3 separate regions of the Homo sapiens genome follow, and all the other regions are linked to region 2. The links come from fine-mapping of genetic effects on gene expression. A gene starts in region 2. Each other region holds a variant in brackets. All regions are shown on one strand. Distances are from middle to middle.

The links.
Region 1: its variant is fine-mapped to the expression of GMPR in aorta (GTEx, PIP above 0.99).
Region 3: its variant is fine-mapped to the expression of GMPR in whole blood (TOPMed, PIP above 0.99).

The regions. Positions count from the first base shown.
Region 1 is chr6:16,191,420-16,195,768 of GRCh38, forward strand. No RefSeq gene overlaps it. Among named protein-coding and RNA genes, the nearest start is that of GMPR, 45 kb to the right of the region's middle. The variant C/T (reference allele first, on the strand shown) is at 2,338.
Region 2 is chr6:16,236,364-16,240,654 of GRCh38, forward strand. It overlaps GMPR (guanosine monophosphate reductase), which reads left to right and starts at 2,224. Exons shown (of 9, transcript NM_006877.4): 1 at 2,224-2,417. The coding sequence starts at 2,331. RefSeq lists silencers at 2,007-2,106, 2,227-2,326.
Region 3 is chr6:16,288,618-16,292,617 of GRCh38, forward strand. It overlaps GMPR (guanosine monophosphate reductase), which reads left to right. Exons shown (of 9, transcript NM_006877.4): 8 at 1,845-2,004. Among named protein-coding and RNA genes, the nearest start is that of GMPR, 52 kb to the left of the region's middle. The variant T/TAC (reference allele first, on the strand shown) is at 2,000.

The DNA.
Region 1 (4,349 bases), 45 kb before region 2:
TTTTATTTATTTATTTATTTATTTATTATTATTATACTTTAAGTTTTAGGATACATGTGCACAACGTGCAGGTTTGTTACATATGTATACATGTGCCATGTTGGTGTGCTGCACCCATTAACTCGTCATTTAGCATTAGATATATCTCCCAATGCTATCCCTCCCCCCTCCCCCCACCCCACAACAGTCCCCGGTGTGTGATGTTCCCCTTCCTGTGTACAGTCCTTTTTTTGTCTGAACTTATCACATTTTGTGTTAAACAACACTAACCTAGCAGCTGATAAAATCTGATGCTTTAAAACTCAAAGGGATTCTAGAGGTTGTCTAGTCTGGTATTCCTCATGTGTTGGTCTGTACACAGGCTACATGAGAATTATTTGGTTAGTGATTTCCAAATACAGATTCCTGGGGCCCTCTCTGGGCCTTCTTTACAAAAGCTTAAAGGCAGGACACTGGGAATCTTAATTTTAAGGTTTCTAAATTGATTATTGGGCATAGCCTGGTTTTGCTACCTCTTATCCAAGACCATCTCTAACTCAGTGGAGGAATCCTGTCCTACACACCTCTGACCTGTAAGCAGGCAAGGCAGTCTCATCAGGGACACACACAGGAACAATCTTGGAGAAAGTGTGTTTTTTTGTTTTGTTTTGTTTTTTTGGAGACAGGGTCTCACTCTGTCACCCAGGCAGGGGTGCAGTGGTGCAATCTCAGCTCACTGCAACCTCCGCCTCCTGAGTTCAAGCAATTCTCCTGTCTCAGCCTCACAGGTAGCTAGGACCACAGGCGTGCACCACCATGCCTGGCTAATTTTTTGTATTTTTAATAGAGACGGGCGATCTCACTATGTTGCCCAGGCTGGTCTTGAACTGCTGAGCTCAGGCAATCCGCCCACCTCGGCTTCCCAAAGTGCTAGGATTATAGGGATAAGCTACCACACCCAGCTGGAGAAAGTGTGTTTTAATGGGGTAATAATATATTTCATTTTATTTATTTTTTGAAGAGAGAAGATCCCACTATGTTGCCCAGGCTGATCTTGAACACTTGGGCTCAAGTGATCCTCCCTCCCCAGCCTCCTGAGTAGCTGGGATTACGAGCATGAGCCAGTGCACTCAGCTGCTGGGATAACACTAGGTTTAAAAATCCTTTCTGGCTGGGCGCGGTGGTTCATGCCTGTAATCTCAGCACTTTGGGAGGCTGAGGCAGGCGAATCACGAGGTCAGGAGAGCGAGACCATCCTGGCTAACAAGGTGAAACCCCATCTCTACTAAAAATACAAAAAATTAGCCAGGTGCAGTGGCCCACATCTGTAATCCCAGCACTTTGGGAGGCCGAGGTGGGCGGATCACGAGGTCAGGAGATTGAGACTATCCTGGCTAACACGGTGAAACCCTGTCTCTACTAAAAATACAAAAAAATTAGCCGGGCATGGTGGTAGGTGCCTGTCGTCCCAGGTACTCGGGAGGCTGAGGCAGGAAAATGGTGTGAACCCGGGAGGCAGAGCTTGCAGTGAGCCGAGATCGCGCCACTGCACTCCAGCCTGGGTGACAGAACGAGACTCTGTCTCAAAAAAAACAAGCAAAAACAAACATTTTATTTAGAAATAATTTTAAATTTATAACAGACTGTCAAGGATTCTATAGAGAACTCCCCTATTCCCTTTACCCAAATTCACCATATCCATTTTTAACATTTTGACACACTTGAGCTCTTGTGTGTGCATGCACTCTCTCCTCACTCTCTCTGTCTGCACAGACACACACATTAAGTTTTTCTGGGTCATTTAAAAGTACTTTGCAGACTTCATGACCCTTTACTCCTCAGCGTATATTTTTTCAGTGTATATTTTCTAAGAACAAGAAAGTAATAAAATTCAGATAACTTAATATTGACATAATACCTTAATCTATAATCTTATGCCAAATTTACCAATTGTCCTAATAATATCCTTTAAAGCAGTTTTTGGTACATTATCCAGTCCAATAACACACTGATGTCCTAATAATTGTCCTAATAATATCCTTTAAAGCAGTTTTTGGTACATTATCCAGTCCAATAACACACTGATGTTCCTTAGAGGCTCTAGGGAACAAATGCATTATTTCGAAAACGTTTCATTGTCACAAATTACTTTATTTTTAATGTGGGCTTTGAATAGTTTATTCTAGAACCAACCACCCCATTCCTCTTAAAGAGATCAGCCTAGTCTTGAAAAGTCCAGGTTTGTGAAGACACATTTCCTTACCCATTCTCTGAAGTGTCAAGTTCCTATTTCAAACACATACACACAAAAAAAATTCAGAGGAAAATATTTGGAAATGTTCCTATTTGTTGTGTGCC[C/T]GTGGCCTAGGAGGTGACAAGAAACAAAATTGTTCCCTGCTTCTCTGTCAAAATCCTGGCATGTAGACCCTCTGTTTTCTCAATTCGTTATAGAATTTCAACTGCTGAATGAGCATTCTTTAACCTGAGCTGACCATTTGGAATTTAAAATTAGCAGAGTAATTATATTTACTGGGCCACTGATTCAAGGGAAATTGAGCTCAGCTGATGAATTTGCATGTCGTGAAATGGGTCATGACAGCAGATGGTCTTCCAAGAAGCAAAAAATAACTTTGAAGTTGGTTGCTCTTTCTCCTTGACTTCTTCCATTGAACCCCGCTGCAATAATGTGAATGCTGAAAGCAGGTCAAGTGAATTTGGGATGTCTGGATGGATAATCAAGGAGAGTTGTTAGTTGTCAAAGAAGAATATTTTGATCTTAAAATCAATCACCATATATCGAGATCTGATTATAAAGCTAATGCTGTGTTCAATCACCATCATCATTAACATTTATTAAGCGCTCGCTTGCACAGGTGCTATTCTAAATGCTTTACATGTATTGACTTGTTTAATCTGCACCAAAACCTATAAGCAAGGATTATTATCATCTGCATTTTACAAATGAGAAAATTGAAAGTAAGAAAATAAATTGACCAAGTTCAAATAAGGTGTTTTGGTTTTTGCTTTTTGTCATATGAAATAAGTGAAGCCTGAGGAGATTTTGTCTATATTAAACTCAGAAATGTCATATTTAGATTGTGGTTTCTAAATACCATTTCCCACTAAAAGAAACCAGGGCACTTTGGAGAAATGGCTGATTTGATATCTGGAGCTGGAAATGTACAAGATGAGCATAGAACATCTTGTCATACCACATGGCAGGAAAATGACTGGGATCGTTTTTTAAGGCTGAAGAGCTCTTATTGAGCAAAGAGGAACAAATTTGAGCATCAATAAAGAGAAGAATTAAAATGGATGTAAACAAATAGAAAATATTTGTTGAAACACATGGACTGTATTTAAATCCATTGGTTTATAATAACACTGAAACAGAAACACATTTGGTATTCTTTAGAGGCTCTAGGGAACCGATGCACTATTTTGAAAACTGATCAATAGGGAGAAAGAATCAAGCATTTTTTTCTTTCATTTTTTATATGAACTGTATCTCAGTGTAACCAAATATTTAACAAGGGCAAGTTTCTTTTTACATAAGTAATCTACCCAACAAATGAAGAAGAAATAATTAAAATATCACTATTTGAATCATTAAGGAATTAATGTTTCTCAGCAATGATCAACAATGGCTGGTAACATTTAGAAAGTGACATTTTATGATTCTTGATGGAAGTATTCCACACTACCTATATAATAGTCTTGCAAAAAAAAAAAAAATCTGTTCAAGCACCTGTATCTAACAGAAAATACAGAGGACAGAGGAGCATGTTAAGCAACACTGTGGGGATGAAATCAGAAAAATCCACACTATGAGAAACTCAGGACAAAGGGTCTATTTCTTCTATACAACAACAATCACAAGAATGAAAGACAAATGTAAGGAGGGAGAATATTTACATTAAAAGAGACTTGAGGATTGGGCATGATGACTCACACCTGTAATCCTAACACTTTGGGAGGCTGAGGTGGGAGGATCTCTTGAGCCCAGGAGTTGAAGACCAGCCTGGGGAACATAGCGTGACCCTATTTAAATATTTTAAAAAGAGAGAGAAACTTAAGAACTTATTATTAGCCAACAGTAATATATAGAGCTTTGTGGATCCTATTTCAAATGCACTTTAAAACAAAAAACAACAAAGCAAATTAGAACCAGAACATTTATAGATAATCAGGAAAATAGGAACATGGATATTAAAGAATTAGAATTACAATTTGGGGGATAAGATGATGATGTAATTACATTTAAAATAGAGTCTTCAGAGATACATACTAAAATATTTCAAATAAAATTATATGGTGTCTAAGGGTTGCTTCAAAATAATTGGGAGAAGCCAGGTACAGTGACCCAAGCT
Region 2 (4,291 bases):
AAGAGGGCAGTTATAGAGGAATGTTCCAGAGGGAGAGGGAATGGAATGTGTAAAATGAACTTCTCTGTCTATTCTAATAAAAGGAGGGCTAGCCAGAAAGAAAGAGAACCAGAGGGAAAGAGCAAGGACAACCTACAGAAGCTTCTCCTTTAAGACCATGTATGAAACAATGAATAAAGCCCTCATCCACGCTGGCAGATGCTTAACAAGGTCAGTTTCTCTTCCCTTTAAGGATAATAATTTAAAAATAATCATACCATCTAGTAATTATATTTTACCTCTATTTAATCTTTAAAAGATCAGAATTAGGTTTCCTTTCCGTACTTCACAAATAAGCAGCACATCTGGCCAGCTCCCAAGAATTCGTCAAGGGTTATAAACATTGCATGGGCTGGACTAATTGTGGCTACTTTCATTCTCTCTGATAAGTTTCATTTCCTTCCCTGAAACTTCATGAACTTCCTTTGGGGTATAGCTAATGAAACCATGTGGGATGGGCTGAGACCTTTATCATCTTCAGACATTTGTGTTAAATTGAATATTGTGATGTATCTTTTATGGTCAGCCTTATCACATGCTAGCTCAAGGAGAACAGTTGCTAGCTCAGTTCGAGGCTGCAGAAAAATGGAAGAGAATGAAAGATGATTCTTGCCTTTGTGCAGTTAGCATTCTAGTTTGAAAATACAAACACAATGCACATAATGTAACATGTGACTACAAATCTGTAACTACCATGCATTGAGCAACTACTATGGGACAGACATTGTGCTTACATAAACACACACACTTTAATTCTCACAAAAACCAGGGAGGAGATAGGGTTAACCCCCCCTCCTGCCCCCACCCCTTTTATGAGAAAACTGAGACTTAGAGAAATTGACTCCCCTAAGGTCACCTAGCTAGACAGTGGTGGAACCAGGTTTCAAACTCAGGCAGAGATGTTCCAGGACAAAAGCAGCTTCAGTGAATAGTTGTAGCAAGTTTTAAGGACTGAGAAATTTATATTGAATTTTTCTGCGGCCTTAGGCAAGTTATTTCATTTATAGAAGCCTCGTTTTTCCTTATCTGTGAAATGGCTCTTTCTTCATTGGGTTGTTCTGAGAGTGAATGAGATGATGCATGAAGCCCGGCAGCACATTTCAAATGTATAATAAAAGGTCGGTAAGGTCAATAAGTGAATCAATGAACTCACATCACTGGTAACCCCTCGAACTCACATCACTGGTAACCCTCAGAGGGGACTCAGGCTCCTCAAATCTCAGGATCTGCGTCGACTACAGACCTCACTGTTTTTCTTAAACAAAAATCCTGAAATCCAGGCTGGGCGCAGTGGCTCACGCCAGTAGTCCCAACACTGGGAAGCTGAGGCGGGAGGATTGCTTGAACCCAGTAGTTCAAGACCAGCCTGGGCAACACAGTGAGACCTTGTCTCTTAACAACAAGTCCAAAGGGAATCATGGCCTCCACAATCCCAGTACAGCTAAACAGTTAACTGCCCACGTTCTTTTCCTTAATTCTATACAACCTCCCTGGGGTTTCTGGTTCTTTGGCAAGTGAGAGACGTGCTCCTCAACACTGGGTGAGCACACCGGGCTTGAATTTTAAAAAAGGAGAATCCGCCGGGCACGGTGGCTCACGCCTGTAATCCCAGCACTTTGGGAGGCCGAGGCAGGCGGATCACTTGAGGTCAGGGGCTCGAGACCAGCTTGGGCAATATGGTGAAACCCCGCCTCTAGGAAATAATTTTTAAAATAAGCTGGGTGTGGCGGCGTGCGCCTGTACTCGAGGAGGCTGAGGCATGAGAATCGTTTGAGCCCAGGAAGTCGAGGCTGCGATGAGCGGCGATAGCGCCACTCACTCCAGCCTGAGCGACAGTGAGACTGTCTCAAAAAAAAAAAAAAAAAAGTAAAAGCTCTCAGGGAGCGACTTTTCCCTTGGATAAGGCAGCCACACGCTAAGTCCCCTCTCCATCGGGGACCCTGGGGACAAACAGAACGGTGCGCATTTCCCTCCCCCGTCCCCATTCGGTCACTGCCACGGGCTGTACACCTGAGGGGGAAGGACGGGGGCGGCGGCGCGAGGAGGAAGGGCTTCGCCGCCAATCTGTCCCTAACCAGTCTGCCTCTCAACCCCTGCCTGAGGCGGAGGCGGTGCCCGGGGCGGGCCAAGCGTGACCGCGGGTCGGCGGGGCGTGTTTAAGACCGCGGCGTGCGCACCCGGCCCACGCCAGCTCCCGGCCGCGGCACAGCAGCCCCGGCGCTCCCCGCGCCGCCCCGCGCAGGCGCCCCCGCCCCGCCGTCGCCGCCGCCGCAGCCAGGAGCCGCTGCACCATGCCCCGCATAGATGCGGACCTCAAGCTCGACTTCAAGGATGTCCTGCTCCGACCTAAGCGGAGCAGCCTCAAGAGCCGAGCCGAGGTGGGGGACGTTCGGAAGTCGCAGTGGGGTGGGATTTTTTTTTCCGGGTGGCGCGGGGCAAGTGGGTGGAAGGGGGTGGCACCGGGTTACCCTGCCTGCTTTGGTGTTTGAGACTGGGGCGCTGCGCCCCCGTTCCCGCGCCCCAGCACCTGCCAGGACGTGAGGTGTCTTTAAGGGCGGTGATACGGGGGCCCATGAAATTCTCTACACGTCGGTCCCGTTGGGTGGCCTAGGGGAAGTTCACAGTGAAACTCGACCACAGATGAGCGAGATCCAGTGGCCAGTTGGTTTAGAAGGAATAGGGGTACGAGGGCGCTTATAGCAAGAAAAGGAAACTGGAGCTAGGGGAGAGAGGACGAGAAAAACAACTGCAGATCCCGGTGATTTTTGGCTGCGTCTCCTAGTGCTGATAATTGCTGCTGCTTTCGCTTCGGGTCCAGCGGTGGAACTTCGTGAACGCGTCTGAAAAACCAGAACCCAGGGCACAAGTTCAGGGTTTCCTTTCTGAGTTTGGCGGCCTTGCTGGCAGTGGGGCTTGGGGACTCAGCGGTACTGGACAGCCCGCGGTCCCAGCCTAGCCCTGGAGAAGAGTTTCGAAAGCTTTGGGGTGAGAGAGGTGGGGGCGAATTGGAAGCCTCGGGCATTTCCCTGGTTCTGCCTGGATGTCCTCAAATCCTAAGGAACAGGTGGAGACCGGACTGGAAATAGCCTGAGGCTGGGGGAAGGGAGGCCAGTCCCTGAAGGATAAACTAGTTGCCTGAAAGGCAGAGTGCCCCGGGGTGGTGTGCGCTGGTGACTGGCTTTGCTGAGAGCTGGAGAGGAAGGTGAGGAAACCGGACACGGTTGAAGGCTGGGGCTGAAGGAGTAAACACGAGGAGGCTGGGCCAACCTGCACAGCTCCGTCCACTCAGCTCCACAAACAAGACCATAAATAAATCCCCTCAGCAAAGAAGTCCGCTGCCCACTCCGGTGCCAGGCCTAACTGCAGTGCCTGGGGCTGCCAGCCGAGGGCTTGCTTGGATTGGGGAAGCCTCCGCGTTAGCCAATGACTAAACCAAGTGGCCTTCTGTAAGCAGCAGCATTGGCTGGTTTGGAGCCCGGCAGGACTGGAGGACGTAGGGGAGGAATGATTAAAACTTATCGCCCCAGATTGGGTGACCCTGTGCCTGTCCCTCATGACCTTTCAGGTGCTAAAGAGGGGGCCTCTCTTGGAACAAAAACAGTTTGGAGGGCAGGCCTGGGCCTCTGGAAGCATGAGCTGTAGCCAATTCCTAAGGCAAGACCAAGATGAAATAGGGGGATTCTGGATGTGCTAATAATTTGGTGGCCTCAATATTCTTTAAATATTCAAAATGTATTTAGAAGAGAGAAACTCATTTTTCAGAAAATTGGATGTTCAAAACAAAGATATACCTATTTTCTGAACCAGAAAACATGTTGAGAAGGTAAAATATTGAACATTAATGTAATAGGGCCAGGCACAGTAGCTCACACCTGTAATCCCAGCACTTTAGGAACCTGAGGTGGAAGGATTGCTTGAGGCCAGGAGTTCGAGGCCAGCCTAGGCAACAAAGCAAGACCTCAGCTCTACAAAAATTTAAAAAATCAGCCAGGGCAGTTGTGCACACCTCTAGTCCCAGCTATTTGGAAGGCTGAGGCGGGAGGATGGCTTGAGCCCACGAGCTGGAGATTACAACAAAAATTTAAAAAATTAGGGCAGTGGTGCTCACCTGTAGTCCCAGCTACTTGGAAGGCTGAGGCGGGAGGATGGCTTGAGCCCAGGAGCTGGAGGTTACAGTGAGCTATGATGGTGCCACTGCACTTCAGCCTGGACAACCCTGTCTCTAAAGCTAAAATGAAATTTATGTAATAGA
Region 3 (4,000 bases), 52 kb after region 2:
CCATGCAAGGGCTGAGGAGTGCAGGCGCAGGGCGTGGGACTGGTGGGCAGCTCCATCTGCAGCCCCAGTGCGGATCCACTGGATGAAGCCAGCTGGGCTCCTCAGTCTGGTGGGGACGTGGAGAACCTTTATGTCTAACTCAGGGATTGTAAATACACCAATGGGCACTCTGTATCTAGCTCAAGGTTTGTAAACACACCAACCAGCATCCTGTGTCTAGCTCAGGTTTTGTGAATGCACCAATCCACACTCTGTATCTAGCTAATCTGGTGGGGACGTGGAGAACCTTTGTGTCTAGCTCAGGGATTGTAAACACACCAATCAGCGCCCTGACAAAACAGACCACTCACTCTACCAATCAGCAGGATATGGGTGGGGCCAGATAAGAGAATAAAAGCAGGCTGCCGGAGCCAGCAGTGGCAAACCCTTCTGGCTCCTTTTCTTTGGGAGGGTGATTTGTTGTTTCGCTCTTTGCAATAGATTCTGTTGCTGCTCGGTCTTTAGGCCCACACTGCTTTTATGAGCTGTGCTATTTGCCGGGAAGGTCTATAGCTTCATTTTTGAGCTAGCGCAGACCCCAACCCCACCAGAAGGAAAAAGCCTCAGCCGCGCCACCTTATAGAGCTGTTACACTCACAGTGAGAGTCTATGGCTTCATTCTTGAAGTCAGTGAGACCAAGAACCCACCAGTTCCGAACACAGTAGCAGTTCCTTAGTTAATAGGCAATGAAGAATCCCACTGCACAGTGATCCATGAACAAAATGGGGAATGATAACTTTTTTTCCCACGTTTTTACTTTTTTGACAGCTAATCATTCAGCGTCTATCATGTGCTGTGCACTTTGGATCAACATAGAACCAGCCCTGGGCCTGTTCCAGCATAGCCCACAAAGACAGGCAGCTTCAGTACCTCTGTCTCCTGTGCCTGTCCTGGAAATGTGCTGTCATTCGGTGATTAGTCTGGCAGAATATGTACTCTGGAAATCTAATGTGCAGCAGCATGGTGCGGGTGGAGTTTTAGACGACTTCCATAACACGGGGACTTCTTTCCTTGAAGCTGTCTAGTGTAGGAGCTTCAGTCTGTTCTGAGGCTTTTTCCTGATGTATAAGCACAGGGAGTGTCAGAGTGTGGAGAGCTTCAAGTACAGACCAGACACCTGAGGGGGTATCATAGAGGAGTCATAGCATTAAGTACAAGATTAGGTAACTTGCTTTCTAAGATACTGCCCAATTTTTTTTTTTTTTTTTTTTTTTTTTTTTTTTTTTTTGTGAGACGGAGTCTCCCTCTGTTGCCCAGGTTGGAGTGCAGTGGCATGATCTCGGCTCACTGCAACCTCCACCTCCGGGGTTCAAGCGATTTCCGGCTAATTTTTGTATTTTTAGTAGAAATGGGGTTTTATCATGTTGGCCAGGCTGGTCTTGAACTCCTGATCTCAAGTGATTCACCTGCCTCAGCCTCCCAAAGTGCTAGGATTACAGGGCTGAGCCACTGTGCCTGGCAGAATACTCCCCAATCTTAATGTTTCTGTGATTCTAAGAGAGTTAGATCTGAGGAAGGTGGTCGTAGTTAGCCATTAAAAGCCATTCAGCATGGTCCAGTATATGGGACACTAGCCTTCAGTAGGCTGCATTTGTTTCTCGCAGTGTCCCATGGCCCTTTCTCCCTGCATGGAAGCCTTCTCCCTTTTTCCAGGAGGAGACAGGCGAGAGAGGTCCAGCCTTTCTCTTGACTATAGCTGGGCGGGGAGGGAGGTGAACTGGGCAAGCACTGGGATTTTTTGAGAGCCTTTTCCCCTGAGCTGTTTTCTCTGCTACTCGCTTTCATCCCCACCGTTGGCATTTAGGAGCTGGAGCAGATTTTGTCATGCTGGGAGGAATGTTTTCGGGTCATACGGAGTGTGCTGGAGAAGTGTTTGAGAGGAACGGACGGAAGCTCAAGCTCTTCTACGGGATGAGCTCTGACACCGCCATGAACAAGCACGCAGGAGGAGTTGCTGAG[T/TAC]ACAGGTGAGGAGGTGACCCCGGGGCGCACCCTCGAGGCCTGGCCTTGCTTTTCTTACGGAGATGGGATGGAAGCAGGTCTGAATAGCAGCTCTGTGTATATTAAAGTACCGTGGGAAGGGGTTCTTTTTAAAGACCCCTAATTTGTATCCAGTTAGCATTTGCAGTGTTTGGGGTTCCCAAAAGCAAGTACAGAGCAGCAGTGTTTGGTGATGGGTTGGAAGTGTGACCAGGGTTATATGTGAGTGGGTGCCAGTCCTGAAGGGAATACTTCAGACCTCTGGGGGTAGGTGGAATTATTGTCTTGTCCTTCCAGTAGAGCCTGTGCTGAGCTATCCCTGTAAGCTTAGATCTCTGGCTTGAGAAGAGTTCAGGCTGAAAGGATTGAGTTGAAGAATGGCTCTCCTCTTGCACAGAAAGCCATAGGTGTGGTCTAGACCACTGCACGGTGGCCAGGCCTTTCCTGAAGAATGCTGCATACAGCTCATACCGCTTCTCACCTTCCTCCAGGCTCCGAGAGCCGACACAGCAGCATTTTCAGCCATTCAGTTGTGTCATCCACTGTAGAAGTGGGGCTTACTTCTGCTGATGTGTGTTTATTTTTTATTTTTTATTTTTATTTTTTTGTGGTGGAGTCGTGCTCTGTCGCCCAGGCTGGAGTGCAGTGGTGTGATGTCAGCTCACTGTAACCTCTGCCTCCCGGGTTCAAGTGATTATCCTGCCTCAGCCTCCCGAATAACTGGGATTACAGGTACCCCCCATCATGTCCAGCTATTTTTTGTATTTTTAGTAAAGATGGGGTTTCGTCATGTTGGCCAGGCTGGTCTCGAACTCCTGACTTCCAGTGATCCACCCACCTCGACCTCCCAAAGTGCTGGGATTATAGGCATGAGCCACCGCACCTGGCTCCTGATGCATGTTTTTAATCCATGGTCTCCAAAGACACCTGGGTCTTTTCCTGATTCCCTTCCATTTTAACTGTCTGCATGTGTGTTTTAAGAACCTGATGATGGGGCCAGGCACAGTGGCTCATGCTTGTAATCCCAGTGCTTCCAGCAGCCAAGGTTGGAGGACTGCTTGAGACCGGGAGTTCCAGATGAGCCTAGGCAACATAGCAAGACCCTGTCTCTACAAAAAAATTAAAAATTAGCTGGGTGTGGTGTCACATGACTGTACTCCCAGCAGCTCAGGAGGCTGAGGCAGGAAGATGGCTTAAGCCCAGGAGTTGGAGGCTGCAGTGAGCTATGATCGTGCCACTGTGCTCCAGCCTGGGCAACAGAGTGATACCCTGCCAAAAAAAAAAAAAAAGAACCTGATGACAGTATACTCGCTGCCTCACCCTGCTCCATAGAGCCTACTGTTACTCTCATCAGGGTTAGCGCCGATGACAAGCTATACAAAATGGGTACAGGAGCAAAGGTTCTCCATCTGCAGAGGGAAGTTGCCTGTGAATCGGCTGGTTGCCTTTTTCCAGGAAAGTTCAGGCTTCTCCCTCCAATTTTCAGACTCTATCCGGTGCTGGAGTGGAAACCTAAGCCCTCCCTGACTGACACCCTTTATTTCCTACCACTCATTCCACACCCAGAGGGTCATTTTGAGGACCTGGGATTCAGATGTATTATATAAGGTTCATACCAAGCTAGCAGCAAAATCTCAGAACTCCACTGAGATTTGTAGGTGGGGGGATTGGGGGGAGTGGGGTGTATTCTACCAGAGTTCTATTCATCCGTGGGGTTCTAGCGGACTTACTTCAGTTCTCATTCTCCTCAAGTCTCTTTCTCTTGGTGGTGAACCCCAATAAAGATATTATAGTATGGGAAAAGCAGGATGGGAAAGATCGATGGGGACTGCACCAATCAGAAATGAGGGATTCACTCCTTCCAGGTAGCCCCCGAGGCCCTCTTTCCCCCAAGCGGTCCCTGATAGAGGAGGAGGTTGCATGGTTGGGTAAGGAGGAGGCACTAAGCTGGACCTATGTTCAAGAAGCTTCGTGCTTTACCAG